Linked DNA regions of Homo sapiens: regions 2, 3 and 4 are each linked to region 1. The links come from fine-mapping of genetic effects on gene expression. A gene starts in region 1. Each other region holds a variant in brackets. All regions are shown on one strand. Distances are from middle to middle.

Evidence for each region.
Region 2: its variant is fine-mapped to the expression of NUFIP2 in CD4 T cells (CEDAR, PIP 0.95).
Region 3: its variant is fine-mapped to the expression of NUFIP2 in whole blood (TOPMed, PIP 0.97).
Region 4: its variant is fine-mapped to the expression of NUFIP2 in whole blood (TOPMed, PIP 0.99).

The regions. Positions count from the first base shown.
Region 1 is chr17:29,292,115-29,297,266 of GRCh38, reverse strand. It overlaps NUFIP2 (nuclear FMR1 interacting protein 2), which reads left to right and starts at 3,119. Exons shown (of 4, transcript NM_020772.3): 1 at 3,119-3,484. The coding sequence starts at 3,208. RefSeq lists enhancers at 2,751-2,950, 3,261-3,360, 3,054-3,814 and silencers at 3,521-3,640, 4,271-4,450.
Region 2 is chr17:29,234,128-29,239,279 of GRCh38, reverse strand. No RefSeq gene overlaps it. Among named protein-coding and RNA genes, the nearest start is that of CRYBA1, 10 kb to the left of the region's middle. The variant G/A (reference allele first, on the strand shown) is at 2,285.
Region 3 is chr17:29,249,418-29,254,569 of GRCh38, reverse strand. It overlaps CRYBA1 (crystallin beta A1), which reads right to left. Exons shown (of 6, transcript NM_005208.5): 3 at 4,270-4,388; 4 at 2,365-2,506; 5 at 788-930; 6 at 76-368. The coding sequence ends at 221. Among named protein-coding and RNA genes, the nearest start is that of CRYBA1, 5.1 kb to the right of the region's middle. The variant G/A (reference allele first, on the strand shown) is at 2,577.
Region 4 is chr17:29,259,597-29,264,748 of GRCh38, reverse strand. NUFIP2 (nuclear FMR1 interacting protein 2) reads left to right here. Exons shown (of 4, transcript NM_020772.3): 4 at 158-5,152. The coding sequence ends at 210. Among named protein-coding and RNA genes, the nearest start is that of CRYBA1, 15 kb to the right of the region's middle. The variant G/T (reference allele first, on the strand shown) is at 2,961.

The DNA of each region.
Region 1 (5,152 bases):
CTCCTGACCTCGTGATCCGCCTGCCTTGGCCTCCCAAAGTGCTGGGTTTACAGGAGTGTGCCACCACGCCCGGCTAAGGGCATTATTATAATGGAATATTTCACATTCTTGGCAAATCCCAATTATATTTTATATAAAACAACTTCAGAAAAATCAAGAAGAAAAAAGGTCTGTGTTTTACTGTTGTATTTCCATTCTTATTTTTAAAATTCGTGTTCAAGATTATGATTCTAATGTATACAAGAATGTAATATTCTGCTTTTTTTCTTACATTATATCATAAGCCTTTCTTCATACTACTGCATACTACTAAGGCAACATTCATAGTAACTAGAGCATCTGAGAATAAGATTTAGTTTATTAAACTCAGTCAGTACAACTGTAAGTGAAAAGCTAAAGGTAGGCAAAAGTGTGATAAATCAGAAATACAGAATGAGTGCTTTTGGTTTGCCTGCAGGTATAATGTAGAAAACCTAGACAGGGAAGTTGGAACTCAGAAATTCAAGCCTTCCAACTGAATGTCTAAGTCAACAAAAAATACCAACATAATCTTAAATTGTATATATACTTTTCTTTCTTTCTTCTTCTTTTTTTTTTTTTGAGACAGGATCTCGCTCTGTTGCCCAGACTGGAGTACAGTGGCACAATCACAGCTCACTGCAGCCTCCACCTGGAGGGCTCAAGTCATCCTCCCATCTCAGCCTCCCAACTACAGGCACACACCACCATGCCAGGCTAATTTTTAAAAATTTTTGTAGAGAGAGAGTCTCTGTATGTTGCCCAGGCTGGTCTCGAACTGCTGGGTCAACTGATCTGCCATGGTCTCCCAAAGCGTTGGGATTACAGGTGTGAGCCACCACACCTGACCTGTTTTTTCTTTAATAATTGGGAACGTGGCAGAATATTATTCAGTGGTAAAGACTTATTGTGATATGATATTATTATTAGGGTTTTCATTCTCAAAATTGGGTAAATGTACCCCCAAAGAGGTTTTTCTTTAAAATTTAGCAAAGCTGGCTGGGCCTGGTGGCTCATGAATCCCAGCACTTTGGAAGGCTGAGGTGGGCAGATCACCTGAGATCAGGAGTTCGAGACCAGCCTGGCCAACATGGAGAAACCCCATCTCTATTAAAAATACAAAATTAGCCTGGCACAGTGGCGCATGCCTGTAATCCCAGCTACTCAGGAGGCTGAGGCAGGAGAATTGCTTGAACCCAGGAGGCAGAGGTTGCGGTGGGCTGAGATCATGCCATTGCACTCCAGCCTGGGCAACAAGGACAAAACTCCATCTCAAAATAAAATAAAATAAAATTTAACAAGGCAACACAAATCCTTACTGTATAGAACATGCCAAAATTTGGTCATGGTTTTCAGGATTCAATGACATTTGTTATTGGAAACCAGCTTTTACGTTTTAAATAAGCTTTTGCATTGACATTCATTAATTTCATAGCATAAACTTTTTGCTTTCAAGCTTCTTGTTCCTTTAATGTTGTCCTGTTGTAGGAATTCAAGCCACATTTTAAAAATTCAAAAACGTAACATACATTGAGGAAACAGTCCATATGTCCGTTGCTGAGTGAATGAACAAAATGTGGTATATACATATAATGGAATATTAGTCAGCCTTAAAAAAGAGGGAAATTCTGATGTATGCTACTCTGAAGACATTATGCAAAAAAGCTAGTCACAAAAAGACAAATACAGTACAATCCCACTTATATGAGGTACCTAGAATAGTCAAGTTCGTAGAGACAGAAAACAGAACAGTGGTTATCAAGGGATGGAAGGAGGAGGGAAAGGACATTTATTTTTATTGGGTATGAAGTTTCAGTTTGGAATGATGAAAAAGTTCTGGAGATAGATGATGGTCATGGTTCTACAACAATACGAATGTACCTAATGCACCTGAACCATACACTTAATATTAAGATGGTAAATTTTATATTATGAATATTTTACAATTAAAAAAATCCCCCAATCTATAACATACATTGGGAAAAGTGCATTTTATCTGTATATTCAGTTTAACAAATAATTACTAAGCAAATATATGTAATCACCACCTAGCCCCCAAAATGAAATATTATCAGAGTAACCTGTGTCCCTCCCCATCACAACCCTCTTCCTTCCTGAGTAACCACTATCATGGCTCTAACATTTGCTTTTGAAAATCATATACTGTGATGTGGTAATGCAGGATAAGTTAAATCTACACTACAAAACGCTACAGAATATTTCTTTTAATTTCAATTTTTCCATAAGTGCCAAAAAAAAAAAAAACAAACCCACTTAATAACTTTTAAGTGCTCTTTCTCCCCTTCCTTTGCTCTTGAAACTTCTCATTCTAAAACCTATTTTGGTTCCACAGTTGACCTCACCTGCAGAGTTTAATTAAAAAAAAAAAAACCTTCAGTGTAAATTTTCATTCCTCCTGCTCTCCCTTGCCTCCAACTACAAAGAAACAATGATTTAAACCCTTTGTGCCCTTTTAGAAAATTACACAGATACCCCATTGTGGAACCCTATAATCCCTTCGTGGAAAGGAAGAGATTAGCATATGAATACAAAGCAAAATGAATCCAGAATACAAAATGATCTACTGGATTGTGAAGCTCTTGTATGCTTAAAAATGTATTTATTTCCTCTTTTTGTATTGCCCCTTTAGTGGTCTCGGGGTTAAGGGAATTGAGCTTCCCTTTCTGGTTACCCGGAAAAGGATTAAAAACAAAACAAAACAAAAAACAAAAAAACACCAGATTCTAAGAGGTGCAAAGCCAGCAGATGGCTCACAGCACCAGTGGAATCGCCAGTGGAATCTGCTACCCTCGACACGAGCCTGCTTGCCGGCGAGGAGTGTAGAAAGTGCTGTTCACAGACTGCGTGGTGAAGGAGAGAAAGCGACAGAAGAGAGAGCCATAGTGCTGACGTTGAAGGCCCGGCCCTGTGAGGTTGCACAGGGTAAGTGGCGTTGGCCAGGCGGCAGCGGCGAAGGGGAAGGAAAGAGGATTTGAGCTGGGGGCGGGGCTTGCGGCACAGCGTGGCTCCTGATTGTTGGAGTGCGGCTGCCAATCTCGCAGAATCGCTCGGTTAACCAGTGCGCTGGCGAGACGCGCTCAGATATACTGAGTGAGCCCTGAGAAGCAGTCTCAGATCCTGACGGTGCAGCAGCCCGCAGCCTCAGCCAGGGAGTCCCAGCCGCTTTCAATGGAGGAGAAGCCCGGCCAGCCACAGCCTCAGCACCATCACAGCCACCACCATCCGCACCATCACCCTCAGCAGCAGCAGCAGCAGCCGCACCACCACCACCATTATTATTTCTACAACCACAGCCACAACCACCACCACCACCATCATCACCAGCAGCCTCACCAATACCTGCAGCATGGAGCCGAGGGCAGCCCCAAGGCCCAGCCAAAGCCGCTGAAACATGAGCAGAAACACACCCTCCAGCAGCACCAGGAAACGCCGAAGAAGAAAACAGGTCTGGGAGGGAGGACGGGTGGGGGAAGGGGGTTGGGGGTGGAGGACAGGAGAGATGGGGGTGGGGCTGGATCCGAAAAGCGCGGACGGGGTCGGGGTGTGTGTGTGTGTGTCCCCTCCGGCTCTGGGGATGCCCCTTTCATTCTAGAGCTCGGGCTGAGCAATGGGGTTTGCAGCGCCCTCTCCTTCCCTCCAGCATGGGAGAGGCCCAGCCAGGCCAGCGTGACCTTCCTGGCCCCGGCCCCGGCTGAAGGGAGACCTGCTGGGTCGGCCTTGCAAGTCCAACCTCATTATTCTTTTCCCATTCACCTCCCTGCGTCCCTGGAGTTACCTCAATTTGGGGGCCCTGAGATGGGGTAAACCTACCCCCCCAAAAAATCCCTCGAGGTGTAACTCAGGAAGGCCTAGCGAATCCCGACTCGGATGGTGTCGCGAGACCCTTTTGCAGGCGGCGAGGAGTGGGTAGGTAGGGTGAGTTGAGGAAGTGCCCCTCACCCGCCACCCCAAGCCCACCTGTGGCCTTGGGGCTCCCCGTCTCGGTGGGGGGGGCTGTTGGGACCCCTCATCTCACGGGTCATTTCCACCACTAAACGCCCTTTTTGGGCGCCGGACCCCGCAGTCTTGTCCCGCGGCTCCTCCCGAGGCCGGCGCCCCGCGCCCGCTCCCCCCAGAGCCGGCGCGGCTGGAATGTTCTCTCCTCCTCGCGGGGCCGCTTCCTGTCCGCCATGTTGGAAGCCGATTCCTGTCACCGACTCCGGCCCACTGAGGAGCGGAGGGGGAAGGGTGTCGAGGGCCACACGGGGCGGCGGAGCCGGGTGACCCGGGATCACCACCGGCCGCAGCCTCGCCCCCTGCACTGCGGGGGCGCCGGCGCCCCCCGCACCGCGGCCGCCCCCCCCCCCGTCGCCGGCCGGGGTTGTGTAACCCGGTGGCGGCGCGCGGCCCCGGGCGGGTCCCTGGGGTGAGGGGCGGGGGCGGTTGGGGTGGGGGAGGGAAGCGGCCACGAGGGGAGCGGCCTGCGCAGGGCCCCGCGCGCCAGCGGCCGCGTTTCCCGCTCCCGGGTGCGGCGGGAGGCGCGGGCAGTCGGGGCGGGGAGCCGGCCTCGAAGCGGAGCTGAGAGGGAAGGAGGCCGCGGGCGGCGGCCGCGGCGCTCCTAGAGGCAGGAGGCCTGGGGGGGCGGCGGGGGGATTCATTTCGGGTAGAGGCGGTGCCTGAGGCCGGGTGGGGTACCCAGCGGGAACCCAGCTCCCCGGTCACGAGTTTCTCTGCCACAGGAACCTCGTCTCCTGCCAGGTTCGCTCACGACTCCGCCTCTGAGGCTTTCACTTGGGCCTTTTCCTTCTAGCAGCTCATTTTCTACAAAAAAAAAAAAAAAATCCAAAAACCTTGTTCCATTCCCCTCCCGACCCAGCACTTACCTTCTGAGCTTGGGTAGTGTCTTTGAGGTGAGGGATTTTAAAAAATGTTAGGATGGGGAAGAGTGCGAGCTTTTTGACCCCTCTTTCTTGTCCTTAAGGGTGAACCCAAGTGGCTCATCCATGAGGTTAGACTACTACCATCTTGCCTCGGATGAGGCTTCTCTCCGTGTTAAAAAGAAAGGTGTTTTTCGTATTTTAAAATCGATATTGATCCCCAAACTAATCTTAATAAACGAGAAATTGAGGGTAAA
Region 2 (5,152 bases), 58 kb after region 1:
TTCCGGGTTCACGCCATTCTCCTGCCTCAGCCTCCCGAGTAGCTGGGACTACAGGCGCCTGCCACCACGCCTGGCTAATTTTTTGTATTTTTAGTAGAGACGGGGTTTCACCGTGGTCTCAATCTCCTGACTTCGTGATCCATCTGCCTCGGCCTCCCAAAGTGCTGGGATTACAGGCGTGAGCCACCATGCCCAGCATGAACCTTTTTTCTTTCTCCCACTATTTCACTGGTTTCTGACCCTTCCAGGAGTGGAAGGAACAAGAGAGGAAGAGGGCAGAAAATTTCTTACTTGACTGGTCCTGTGGTTAGATGGCTTCACACTACTCTGTATCTGGCAACTCTTCACAGCTGTCAGTTTTGTGGGCACTTAATGGTTCTTGGGAGAGCCCCCACCTGCAATAACTTTGATCTAGGTCTATGCATCTCCACTCTGGCTACCTGTTCCTTCTACAGCTCCTAGGTACCTGGTGGTCACCTCCAGTGTCATTCTGCTAAGGACACATCTGTGCTCCAGGTCTAAGTCGCTACAACCCCATTCCAGCTCCCTCTCAGGCATGACCTCCCTTTCATCCATGGGAAGCACTCACACATGCTTTGCCGTGGCCAATTCTGGCATGTGGGCTTGTTCTTACTCAATCAGCCTCCTTTGCTTGGCCTCATCCCTCAGCAGTTGCCCAGCCTAACTTCTGACCTTTAGATTCTAGTCTGCAGGGGACACATCTTAAGCTTTCAGAGTGGGCCCCTCGTAGCCTTCTCCTTTGCCTTGCAGTGAAGCTCCTTCACCCCTTCCCCTGAAGGGCAGTGGGATTCACAACACAGCTATCTCCCAAAATTTTCTTTCTGCCTCTGTCTCCAATTCTTTTATATTCTTGGTATAAGAAGGAAGGGTAGGCCACACACTATGGCTCATGCCTGTAATCGCAGCACTTTGGAAGGCCGAGGCGGGTGAATCACTTGAGGTCAGGAGTTGGAGACCAGCCTGGCCAACATGGTGAAACCCTGTTTCTACTAAAAATACAAAAATTAGCCAGGGCATGGTGGCACATACCTGTAATCCTAGCTACTGGGAAGGCTGAGGCAGGGGAATGGCTTGATTCTGGGGGTGGAGGTTGCAGTGAGCTGAGATCGCGCCACTGTACTCCAGCCTGGGTGACAGAGTGGACTGTGTATCAAAAAAAAAGAAAAAAAAAAAAAGAAATTTCTGCATAATGGTCTGTTGCACAACTCACTACTTTGGCTTCTAATATCTACCACTTTGGTGACTCAGCTGATTTTTCTTTTTTGTTTTTTTTAGAGACAGGACCTTGCTATCTCACCCAGGCTGAAGTGCAGTGGTGCGATCATGGCTCACTGCAGCCTCGAACTCTTGGACTTAAGTGATCCTCTCACCTCAACCTCCTGGGTAGCTAGGACTACAGGTGTGCACCACTATGCCTGGGTAATTTTTAAAAATGTTTGTGAGACAGGATCTCACTATGATGCCCAGGCTGGTCTTGAACTCCTGGTTTCAAGTGATCCTCATGCCTTGGCTTCCCAAAGTACTGGGATTACAGGTGTGAGCCACCATACCCAGCCTGAAATTTCCACAGTAACATCCTGCTCCATGTGTATGTTCCTTCACACTGTCTTCAAGCTGCTCAACGCCTAGACTCCCTTTGCTCCCAGCAGGTGACATTACAACCTATTTCATCAGGCATGGATTTCCTCAACTTTCTGCCCCTAGAACCTGCAATACCTGCAGGAGTATCTATTACCACACCCACCTCACCTCTTTATCTCCAGCCCCAGATGATCAGCACTTCCTGTCCTGGATTATACACCTTCCTACCATCTCAGGAACTTCATTTAATCAATAGCCCCTTTTTATCTAGTATTTTAAAAAGCAACTGCTATATTTTGTTAGAAAATTATGTATAACTTAAGAAGTCATATTTTCTTGTGTGATAAATATTTGGTGCATCAAAGGTATATAATATATGTATATATATTTATTTATTTTTATTTATTTTTTGTTTTTTGAGATGGAGTTTTGCTCTTGTCGCCCAGGCTGGAGTGCAATGGCACGATCTCAGCTCACTGCAACCTCTGCCTCCTGGGTTTAAGCAATTCTCCTGCCTCAGCCTCCCTAGTAGCTGGGATTACAGGTGCCCGCCACCACACCCAGCTAATTTTTGTATTTTTAGTAGAGACAGGGTTTCACCACGTTGACCAGACTAGTCTCAAACTCCTGACCTTAAGTGATCTTCCACCCGCCTCGGCCTCCCAAAGTGTTGGGATTTCAG[G/A]TGTGAGCCACCGCACCTGGCCTACATATTTTTTAAAAACCCAGCAGCTACTCTGCCCAGAGGTTACCATTTTCAACTTTTTAAGCTTTTTTTTCCTGGTATTCATCAATTTTGACATTATGTATTATAGGTTTTGGCAGATAAGATTTTATCCCTCTGGCCAGGCGTTGTGGCTCATGCCTATAATCCCAGCACTTTGGGAGGCCGTGGTGGGAGAATCACTTGAGCCCTGGAGTTTGAAACCATCCTGGGCAACATAGTGAGACCCCATCTCTACAAATAATAAAAAAAAAATTAGCTGGGCATGGTGTTTCATTCCTATAGTTCCAGCTACTCAGGAGGCTGAGGCAGGAGGATTGCTTGAACCCAGGAGGCAGAGGTTGCGTGAGCCGAGATGGCATCACTGCACTCCAGCCTGGGCAACAGAGTGAGACTCTGTTTCAAAAAAAAAAAAAAAAAAAAAAGGGCCGGGCACGGTGGCTCACACCTGTAATACCAGCACTTTAGAAGGCTGAGGTGGACGGATTACCTGAGGTTGGGAGTTCGAGACCAGCCTGACCAACATGGAGAAACCCTGTCTCTACTAAAAATATAAAAAAGTTAGCTGGGCATGGTGGCACAAGCCTGTAATCCCAGCTACTCAGGAGGCTGAGACAGGAGAATCACTTGAACCCAGGAGGTGGAGGTTGCGGTGAGCCAAGATCGCGCCATTGCACTCCAGCCTGGGCAACAAGAGCGAAACTCTTGTCTCAAAAAACAAAAAAAAAAAAAAAAAGATTTTATCCTTCTTATGGCTCTCTCCCCCTCCCCACCATCCTATGGATGTATTATAAATTTTACTTAAATCCATATTCAGCATTTCCTTGTCTATGAGTTTGTAAATATTGTTCACTGCTGACCAGGCAAAATTTAATAACATTTCCTTTCTTGAACCATGTTTTGCTTTTTCTGGAGTTAAGAAAATGCCTAATGTTTTTCATAGGTTCAGTTTCCCAGCATCTTCATTAAATACTTCTACCACAGAGTGGGGAACATCACACACCAGGGCCTGTCACACAGGGGTGGGGGGAGTAGGGAGGGACAGCATTAGGAGATATACCTAATGTAAATGACGAGTTAACAGGTGCAGCACACCAACATGGCACATGTATACATATGTAACAAACCTGCACGTTGTGCACATGTACCCTAGAACTTAAAGTATAATAATAAAAAAATGGTTAAAAAAATACTTCTAATATGATATTCTACATTTGAACCTCTCAGATCATGTCTCAGCTCCATTTTTCCCCCAGGAGACCTCCTTTCTGGAAGCCTCCCACCCCAGCCTCCCAAGTAGTTGGGACTACAGATGCATGCCACCATGCCCAGCTAATTTTTGAATTTTTTGTGGAGACAGGGATTTGCCATGCTGCTCAGGCTGGCCTCAAGCTCCTGGGCTCAAGTGATCCGCTCACCTTGGCTTCCCAAAGTGCTGGGATTACAGGTGTGAGCCACCATGCCTAGCCTGGAAGCTTCTGTTCGGTTCCAATCTGGGGAATTTTCTCCCTGTACGTAGCTACTGCCCAGAGACTTCTCTTGACTGATGTCCTGGGCATTCCCTTTGCTTGCCTTCAGCGTTGAACCCTATATCTTCCTCTTTCGTAGTTTATCCTCTTGTTTTGGTAAAGCACATTCTCTAATAGTGTCCTGAGACATGGTACATAGAGATACTTTTTTTGAGATCAGGATGTCTAAAAATGTATTTTTGTACAGCAGCATTTTATTGAAGGTTTGGCTGGATATAGAGTATGGTAACAGTACTCTACAAATTGTGAAAATACTTCCCCTTTGTCTTCTATGGGCAATGTTGCTATTGGGAAGTATGATGCTTTTTTTTTTTTTTTGAGACAGAGTTTCACTCTTGTTGCCCAGGCTGGAGTGCAATGGCGCGATCTTGGCTCACTGCAACCTCCGCCTCCCAGGTTCAAGCGATTCTCCGGCTTCAGCCTCCCGAGTAGCTGGAATTACAGGCATGAGCCACCATGCCCGGCTAATTTTGTATTTTTAGTAGAGATGGAGTTTCTCCATGTTGGTCAAGCTGGTCTCAAACTCCCAACCTCAGGTGATCCACCCGCCTCGGCCTCCCAAAGTGCTGGGATTACAGGAGTGACCCACCGCCTGGCCAGTATGATGCTATTTTGATTTCTGATTCTTTGTATAAGATTTTTTTTTCTTTCTAAAAGTTTTTGGATTTTTTTTAATCCCTAAAAATCTGAATTTCCTGAGGCTATGCTTTGGTGAAAATCTTATTTTCTTTATTTTTCCGGGCATTTAGTAGACTTTTCCAACCTTAGGAAATCTATGTTCTTCAATTCTTGGAAATATTCCTGTAATTTTTAAAAAAATCATTTTCTCACTTGTATTTAATGTGTTTTTTTGCAACTTCTATTGGTTGGATGTTGGACCTCCTGAAATGATATTCTAGTTTTCTTATATGTCTCTACTATTTTATGTTTCTTTGTCTTTTTTGTGACTTTTTTTTTTTTTTTTTAAGACAGAGTCTCACTCTGTTGCCCAGGGTGGAGTACAGTGGCGCGATCTGGATCACTGCAACCTCCACTTCCAGGCTCAAGCGATCCTCCTACCTCAGCCTCCTGAGTAGCTGGGCCCACAGGTGCACGCCACCGTGCCTGGCTAATTTTTGTATTTTTAGTAGAGATGGAGGTCTTGCCATGTTGCCCAAGCTGGTCTCAAACTCCTGGGCTCAAGTGATCCTCCTGCCTGGGCCTCCCAAAGTGCTGGGATTACAGGCATGAGCCACCGCTCTCAGCCTTTTTTTCTGACTTCTAAGAGATTTCCTTGATTTAGCTTTTAACCCCTATTAAT
Region 3 (5,152 bases), 43 kb after region 1:
TAAAAAAAAAAAAAAAATTCTCATCCACTTAGGTGTGATTTATGTGAAGCATGGTAGTTAATTCAGTCTACAAAGTTTTTTTTTTTTAAATGACGTTTATTGTGGATTTCAGCAGCTAACATTTGAAAGCAATGTCTGTGAGCAGAACATAAAACTTATTCTAGAGTGCTTAGCAAGGTCTCATGCTTGAGGAATTATCGTACTTGGAGCTTTTAATCAGCTACTGTTGGATTCGGCGAATCGATTGGATCTGCGAAGTCTGGGCATGAGAGCCCCACTCTCTCCAATGTTTATAGTCTCCTCCATGATGGTCACATTCCAAGATATACTGATACCCACGATATCCAGGATATTGGTAGCAAACCCAGCTAGGAAATTCAAAGTACATTTCATTATTAAAACTAATTAGGAATCTGGTTAATACCCCAAAACCTGAGCCTCTTTACTCAACACAATGGTATGAGATGCTTTTAGGCTTAGAAAAAATAGCCATCCTAAATGTGTCAGGCACTATTTGTAAGCATAATATGGCTATAGCTAGTTAATTAGCCTTAATCATCAAAACAGGTATAAGTAGTCAACGTAAATTCTTCCATAGAGGCATGTCTGGGGGAGATAAATCTGCAACCTAAAGTGGTAGTTGGTATAAAGAAATTGAGATTCAAAATTATGTAGAACTAGAATGTGACATCTATACCGATACGTATGAAATCTGATTAAAACATAACTATTGATGCAACCTCAGGAGTTACTTTGAAGTATATTCCAACCCTGTTTTTGTACTTACGCCCCACTTTGTATCTTCATGGAGCCGACTTCGTTGTTGAACCAGCCCATGGCTTGCAAGGAGGGGTAGTCGTCAGAGATCTCCCACTGGCGTCCAATAAAGTTTTCCTTCTCAAAGATGGTCATCTTAGACTCCTTATGATTCTGTAATTCAGAAATTGTTTTAAAATGTTTAGTACTAGTGCTATGGCTATCATTCTTCATGTTTTTCAAAATTGAAACACTTTTGGATTATACAAGGAAGCACATGATAATTTAAAAAGATTAAGGCAACAGATTTGTGAGAAAAAAGTTACCCATAATTTTGTTTATTCCAATTTAAATACCATAACATTTTGAATGTACAAATAACTGATATACTATTTTGGAACAATGAAGAGGATTTGACAGTGAGAAAAAGTACTAACAAAATGCAGCCAACCAAGGGATTAATATTCACTAATGTGAAAAAAGATCTCACAGATTATTACAAAAAGTAAGCCCAAATATGTATGTGTGCGCTTGCGTGTGTATGTGTGTTGTTGGATATAACCTGTATGTCCAGTAGGGGACATGAATACTACACAAGCATTAAAAAGACAGAGACTAACCTGTATGAACTTCAAAAATGGACAAAACTGTTTGGTAATAGAAAGTGGTAGGGGAGCAATTGAGTGGAAAGGGACACCAGGGAACTATGATGGAATGTTCTTTATATGGTTAGGGTGTTGGTTACATGGATCTATATATTTTTCAAAAACTCATGAGAATATTCACTTAGGGTCTGTGCATTTTACTGTATGTCAGTTATACCTTAGGGTGGGCAAATGAAATGTTTTTAAAAGTGAGATTGAAATAATTTCCAGACAGGCAACTATTTATTTGGATTAGAACTATTTAGGTTAACTTCTCCACCAGTTGAATTTTGGCAAGACTTTGAACCAAGATGAGATTATTAACCAAAATCACGAGAAACTCTCACATAGACTGAATATTTGGAAAGGTTCTAGCCCAACCTAACTCCTAATACAGGGATCATTTTCAACACACCCCTTAAGGTCATTCTGCTTTCTGCTTGAACTGTTTCCAAAGACCAGAAACATCCCAGCCTGATGCATTATTGAGTAATACTTAAGTGTTCAGAACAAGAAGATTATTATCAATCAGTGTAGATCGATACTGGAAGACTTGCCTATTTCGTCAGTCATTCCCACTTACTGAAAGGTTACTTCAGCATTTTCCTGTTTCTGCAGTAAAAATGTTACACAGATTGAAATTTAACTGGCCAAGGATTTACTTTTTGCTGCAGGGTAAGCACTTTCACTCATTTACTAGTGTTTCACAAGTTTACTGGGCTCTTGAGTATCCACTTATTGCCACTTGTAAGACCCTTAGTTTTAGCTTAAGGGAAGTACCACCTGGTGGAGAAAAATCAAATAGCAGGCTTAGAGAAGAAAGTGATGTTTTCTCTTTTTTTACTTTTGTCTTTTTTCCTGCCACATTCAGCATAACTGATGATAAATAGCATGAACGTCAGTCTGTCCACACCCTCTTGTCCCATCCCTCATATGCACGGAAGTGGAAATTTCAGAGACTCACAGCTGAACAGATGGGGCGGAAGGACATGAGACGCTCAATGTGGTAGGCATTACTCCCACTCCAGGCATCCCAGCGAGGGTATTCTCCTCTCTCCAGGATAAACTGTTGCCCACAGAAGCTGGTATGCTCATAACCAATCCAGCTGCCAAAGACATGTAGTGTTTGTTCATGGTGTTCAAAGCCTATATGGCCTTGGGGAGAAGGCATCTTTC[G/A]TTTTAGATAAGTCAATAGTGGGGTAAAATATCAAGCCAATCCCAGTAGAGCTGTACAAAGTAATTTGTCACAAGAGTTGAGGAATGAGTTGACAGGTATACTAAGCAGGTTAGTGAATGTAATATTTGTTTGGGGGTTATCACTGAAAAGGTCTATCTACTTCACTGGTCTGAGTGAAGTGTATTAGCAAAGCCAATCTAAAATTATATTTCCTGGCTGGGTGTGGTGTCTCACGCCTGTAGTTCCAACGCTTCAGGAGGCCAAGGCAAGCAGATCGCTTGAGCCCATGAGTTGGAGACCAGCCTGGGAAACATGGCGAAACCCCGTCTACAAAACTCAAAAATTAGCCAGGCGTGGTGACCCACTACTGGCAGTCCCAGCTATTCAGGGGGCTGAGGGTTGAGCCTTGGAGGTGGAGGCTGCAGTGAGCCATGATTGTGCCACTGCACTCCAGCCTGGGCAACAGAGTGACACCTTGCCTCAAAAAAAAAAAAAATTTTTTTTTCTTTTTCTCCAAATCACCTATTCTCTACCTGTTTCAGGATCTAGTGACTGTTGCAAGCTTGTCCAACCTGTTGCCCAAGGGCTGCATGCAGCTCAGGACAGCTTTGAACGCAGCCCAACACAAATTTGTAAACTTCCTCAAAACATTATGAGTTGTTTTTGTTGTTGTTAGGTCATCAGCTATCGTTATGGTATTTTATATGTGGCCCAAGACAATTCTTTCAGTGTGGCCTAGGGAAGCCAAAAAGATTAGACACCCCTGGACTATTGCTTTGGCTCAAGCCAAACCTGTTGGCTTCTTCTTAAGAAAGCACAGGGATGAACAAGCAACTGATGGATTACTAGTCTTTTTTCTTCCTGTGACTTGCGAGTTCTTTCTCCTAGTGCCCCATACCTGTACTTAAAACTTGAAACACTCAGCTCAGTTTTTCACAACTGGGTCTCAGTTAGTGATGACACCTTAAAGTGTTACATCTTTTAAAGGACTGAAGAGCTTAATTTTGGTGGCAAGCAACTTGTGGAAGCCTATCCACATGCAAGGCCAATTCTGCCTAGTCAAGGGTGAGTCTTTTCCTTAGGTATTTTCAGGCTAATGATAAAGGCCTCAACTACTCTGCCAAGAGTCAGAGGACAAAAATGAGAGGGTCTCCCTCACCAAGATTAACCATCAACAAGAAACTGCCTGAAAGATGAATCAGGAGCTAATATGTCTCTGGAGTCGTGGGGTTAAGGTTTTTTTTTTCATAAAGAAATTAGCTAACAGTGTCTGCTCTGGGATATGCAGGAGGAGAGTTAGCCATGAAGAGGCAGCCACTTGACACTTTCTTCTCTACCAATTTTCTGCAGGCAAGAAAAACTCAAGGGTCTTGTGGCTGTTCTGAGGGCACCCTAGGTAGCAGCCTGTGAGCTCCAGAAGCAAAATTTTGATTACTGCCACTGTCCCACCCCATTGTATGTATTTCTTTATCCAGCCCCTGAAATCTAGTACCAAGCCACTAAGAACCTCATGTTCCTTCCTTCTAGCTTTGGCTTACTAAATTATGCATGTAGTGATTTCTTTCGAGGCCTGTCTCCGAGAAATGACTAGAGCCTAGGGGAACATCCTTCTTCCCCTATCCCCACTCTATGGTCCCCTGTCTGAAGGGACCTGAAATAAGGGGCTGCGGTTCTGCGGAAGTCCATACTCACGCGCCACTTTCCACCTTCAGGGACCGGACATTATCAAAACTGCGCTCAGAGACATTTGGACAGGAGCTGGTGAACTCCATCCTCTTGCCCTGAAAGTTCTCCTGATCATAGATGGTTATCTGAAATGAGATTGAATGGCGCAAGAGAGCTAGAACATCAGGAAAAACAGAGGTCCAGGTCAACAGCTTAACTTCAGTCTGACTCTGTGCTTTCTGTTACCAGCTGTAGCCTGGGATGCCTGATGAGGTCTCTTCCAGTGTAGACAGGGCAGGAAGGGGTTTGAATTAATGCCACTGGTTGGTGTTCATTTGCCCAGAGTAGGGATGAGGTGGAGGGAGGATTGGTTTATGATAGAAATGGTCTGCCAGGGATAATATCTAGACCAATGGACAGGCCAAGGACTTATGGGCTCCCATTCCACCACAGTTCCTTCATAAGCATGGCCCAGAGGCCAGGATTCTGGGAGTCCCAGGAGCTCCTTATAGATTCTTAGCTTCTCCAGCCATACCCCCTATAGAAACCTAGAGTGTAAAGGAGAGTTATGGTCAACCCTTTTTGTACATTGAACTAAAACCTGGCTCGTGGACCTGGCCAGAGGACCACTCGCAAAGCTGTGAGCTGGCCTCAGAGTTGACCCAATGAGGAGAGTGGGGAGTGTTGGAGAGAGGCCAGTGAGAGGCCTGAGGATCAGCCACTTCGGCCAATGGTTAAAGCCAACCTCAGGATGGGAGGCTGAGTCCTGTAATTTATTTGGGATCTAGTAGTAAATATCTTTATGGGCCCTCATTTTCTCCATGGACATAACTGTTGCTGGGCTGCTGTATTTTAAGATGACTTTAGTGGGGAGGAGAGAGGAGTTAGGAAACTAGGTATCATCTCCCAC
Region 4 (5,152 bases), 33 kb after region 1:
ATCATACATGTGTTGGTACAAGGAGGAAATGGGCTTGAAGTTTTGTTTTCATAAAAAAATTGGTCAGTTTAAATGATGGTTATTTGGGATTGTTATTGGAATACGGGCATTTTGAGATTCTAGACCTTATTTTTATTTATTTTTTTAACCTTTCTAGATCCCAAAAGGATAATCACTTACAATGAAGCCATGGATAGTCCAGATCAATGAAGGACCAGACTGCCTATTCGTAACCTTTCTGCAGCATTAGAGCCATCGTTCATGGGGGACACAAGGCTTTTATGCTCCTAGATCTTCAACGCAGCAGAGGAACCATAAGTAGAATCACAGGATAATATATACAAATATATATATATACATATATATATATATAGTTATTTAAAAAAGGCAACTGAAAGTAATTAGACTTCTTAAGGAATCAAATTTATTTCAAGAGACTACACATGGTTATTTAATCTCCGGTACTGAATAGGTTTTTTTTCTTCTGTTAGTTTTTGTTTTTAAGTGTGAATGCAAGTGATTAATGAATACAGACTTAACAAGTGTGGTTCTAAAGTTCCTGCTGTCATCAACTTGGGCAACAAATGACCCACTGGAAAGGCAAATCCACTTAAAAGATCTCTGTATCTTGTTCTGTGACTGAAGTGATACACTAATCACGGGGAACCCAGAATGATTCAACATTTTCCCCCCACTCCTCCCTTGATCTTTTTGGTTTTACTTTAATTAAGCCCTGCGAGAATGCTGGATAAATGCCTTGAAGTTAGCAGGGTGTATTTTTTTAGCGAATATGATTTGCATGTCTTGCCAGGAGTTAAGCGGCCTCTGGGGTGTTGGGGAAATACTTTATTTCTTTCCATTTATTTTTTGTGGGGCGGGGATAGGGGAGGGCATTGAAGTTCTACAATTCTGGAATAGTTAGTTGATGGTACATAGTTAACTTGGCTTCGGTTACATATTGGACTTTAACAACTGAAGAATCTATGCGTGTCATTTAAAGAAAAGTTGCAGAACAAGCAATTGGCTTAGATATACAATCTGGAAAAATATTCCTGTGCCCATATTTTAATGTAATTGTATAACTGGGAGCAAAAATATATTCTGCTTTTCAACTGTAGGTGCTCCAGACTTGCTCTCCGTCACTAACACTAAATGTGCTGTTTTCCTTGTTTTTCATCAAACATTTAAGACAAACTTAGACCTTTCTGTAAATTATCTTTTAATTTCTCAGCAAAATCTAAAAGGGGAAGAAAAAAGTCCATGAAAACTAAAACTTTTCATGTTTTTAGCCAGTGAGAAGATAATAAACCCTGACTGTAGAAGGTGTGTTTTCATGCAAACTATACTTCTGAGCTTGTTAGCTTCTAATTATATCTTAATAAATATATTTTATTACTAGAGCAAGATGGGTTTTTAAGGAAAATAATGTGAAATTCTGGAAATTTTCTTTGGGGCAGAGAAGAGCATTAGCCCTGTCTTATCATTACATTGCCATCCTGTTGCACTGCAGCTTGTGTATAGCATGCTAAAATAAATTTTTGTGTGTGTGTGCAGAAATTAAGGGTCCAATTGAGATTGGGTGATGTTAGTAACATAATAACAAGTTGTCTGGCCTGACACAGCATCACATCACACACACAGAAATTAGTATATCCATGTATGTCAAATACAGGTTAAAATATCAGGGCATTTATATAAAGAGTTGTAGTCTTCTGATAAAAGTAGACTGGATCCCCTGGGGTATTTGGGGAGAAAGTAACTACTTTGGCTCTACCCCTAGAAATGTCCAGTTTTGAGTGACTGTAGTATGGATGGGTTTTCTTGTTTTGTTGATTATTTGAGGCTTTTAAAACAAGTAGTTCATGAAAGAAGCTGTTGGACTCAACATAGAGTAGAGTAACTATCTTTTTAGTCTGGATTTCTGCCCTGCTTAGATTTTAAAAGTATAAGCATGGATTGCCAATTCCACTTGATGTAAACAAAACTTTTTTTTATACATAATATATATATATATATATAAAATAACTTATTGTATCAGTCCAGGTTCAGAAACTTGTGGTAGGCCAGTTCCAGATAGTTTCATTTCACCTGTAAACTGTATCACTTTGACTGATATTGTAATTTTCAAATGTATAATATGTTTACAGATGTGCCCTGCATTTAGTCTGCCTTGTTCCTATTTTGATTTTTGTTGAGTCTCCTGCCTGCTTGCCAAAAGCTAGGATGCTTCAGGCCCATGTACAATTGAAAGCAGAGGCATCCTTGAGCTTTAAAGCATTGAACAAACTGGAAAATGCAACATACCACATAACTGAAGTGAAAAAAGTCTGTGTTTTTGTGTTTTTTTAAATAAAAATTTTCAAAAAGTTAAAAAAAAAGACATATAAGGTTGATTAAAGGGAAAAAAGGCTCCAGTTTGTTTTACAGGTTTTAAAGTTCTGCTGTGTGTTCAATTGCCTTGTGTAACCACTTGTCGCCTTAGGGCCAGATTCCCCTCTCTAGTCCCCTTTTTTAAATGTCCATTTTGCTTGCCTGGAATTTTAAAGTTCTTCCGTCTCACAACTCACAAGAAACTTTCTGGGTTTGTGACATACAGAGGTTGAATTGAGTATATATTTGAAAAGGAAAAAACAAAAAACAAACCCAGACCCCACCTGAATTGGGCTTTTTAACTTAGAAGCAACACTTGATTAAACATCTTTAGAAAGCTATTGCTTTTCTAATTTCCTTCCATATCCCTCAGGCCTCAGTGTTCAGAGAAGCCAAAAAGAATGTATCACTTCTCTGTCTGTCCAAAGGTTTTTGAGAGTCTCACTTCTAAATGAAACAATGCAACATTTCACTTTGATTTCTCCACTGAAATTTCCTTGATTATATGGTTAGAGGTATGTAGTTAGGAATGTCTGTTAACTTTCTGAGAACCCTAGTGCCCCATCATATTAACTGTCAGTATTTTGGGG[G/T]CATTAGGTTAATAGACTTAATTGCCTAGGTACAAGCAGGACTTTGGGACAAATCTCTTTGTGCTGTTTGGTAACACTTAACTCTATTTGTTGCAATCTTTCTCCTTAGGTCCTCACACAATTCCTTACAGAGCACTTATTAAAAAAAAATCTTAAGAGTTGATCTGTTTTCTGATTATTTTGTGTAAGCTTCTAAACAAACTTCAGCTGTGATTAATTTAGCACATTTAAATAACGTGTTATTGTTTGGTATAAAGAATTTTCCTTCAACTCAGAGTATTAGTACTGTAGCATAAACCAAATACAGTCTAGAGGGGATTTTTAACATCCCTCCATTATAAAGACTGAAAAAGGGGTGTGTGTGTGTGTGTGTGTTTATGTATGTATGTATGTGTGTGTGAGGAAAAGATGGAGATATTAAAAATTAGTAAATGAATGTGTATAAGACATTAGTATTCAGAGAATGAACTTGTATTTATTTTGTGCCATTTGTTTTCATTACACAGAAAAAAGTCAGGTGGTTTAAATCCTTAAAAGGGTAGTATTGAAAAATGGCACTAAGAATGAAATTATGACCTATTTTTTTAATAGCTATGAAGATACTAATTATGGGTGAAGATTTCTTTTTAAATCTGTTTTGATTATTGTAGGCTTCTGTGTCACATACCACTCTTGTAGGTGTCCTCAATAATCCCCTTTTCCCACAAAATACACAGGGTGTATTATCTTTCTCTTTATTCACCCCCACTTTGCTGAACTGAAGTTAATTACATAGCCTTTCTTCTAACCTCCTTAGTAATGAACCTTCACATAAAGTGTATTTACAGCGTCTGTGGTAGCCAGCCCTTCCTCCTCTACTTTCTAGGAGGGGATAGCCAATAACTAGGAATTTAATGACAGATTTTTTTTTCTTTGAAATAAATGGCCAGAGTTTCTCCATTTTAGAATTTTGTTGTCCTCCTTAATCATCTGCTTACCTAGTCATTACTCAATCTGCAGAAACTTCATAAAGGAAAAGTGCTGCATTGTTTTTACAAATAACAGTTTGTAGGGAAAATATGACAAACCTCAACTATGGGAGTTGTCCACAATACAAAATTTTGAAAAAACATTACATAGTGATAATATCATACTTGGTTGTTAGGCTTGTTGCTTCCCCACATCAGAGGCATCTAATGATTTATCTTTTGTAATTGCTGTGAACTTTTTTAAATAAGCCATTTAGTGTGAAATTGTCATGTATCAAATGGCTATTGGAAATGGACTTTACTCAATTTTAATTCCACTGTAAATAAGGACGGAGTCATTCCTACAAGGCTCTCTTCAGAGAAATAGATTAAAAGTCCAATTTCCAGGTATTATTAGTATAGTTATGCCGCTGGGCCACATCCTCAACAACAGCTGATCCCTCTTGTATAAATATGTTAACTGTGCAGAACAGTTATGTTATGGGACAAATATAATGGTCATTATGGTCAGATTGGTTGATGCCACACCAGTCAAGGTAGAGTCTGATAGGGCAGTATCTTAATAACCCTACCCATGACTTAACTGTTGGATTTGAAAGGAAAACGTAGGATTTGCTCTTGTCCCCTTACCCGCCACAAAATTTTGATAATTTGTTTAAAAGGGAGAGGCAGAGGAAAAGACTAGAAGCATAAATAGCTGCTTTAGGTTTGCCAGAGGCACATAGCTTAACATTAGTTCTTAATATCGATGTTATTTTTACTAATGTAATTAATCAACAGAGCACCAAGATTCTTTCATGGTGAAAAGGGTGGGCTTCTGTTTTGGTATCTTAAAATGTTTCTTTTAAAATATACATCACCTGTGTGAGAACCAGGACCACCTGGGAGAGTGATGAATCATTGGCTCCACTCAAAAGCATTGCTTTACTGAGTTTTAAATTTCACACTGTTTTGCCGCTCAAGAAAGGTCTTAAAGTAGTTAAAGGATGCCAGCAATAGTGCGAATAGAATTTTCGGTTGTCTGCATAATAAAAACACCCATTGCAGCATGATTGGTATGTTGCTCTTGCATTATTGGGAATGGTAAATCAGTTATGGGCTAGAAACTATGGAATGGCCGTCCTCATATGTGATGGGATTGCTGATTCAGACTTCCCTATTTTCCATACAATTTTGTTATGTGCAGAGTTCTAAAGCCATTTTATAATACTGCAGTATCCCCCC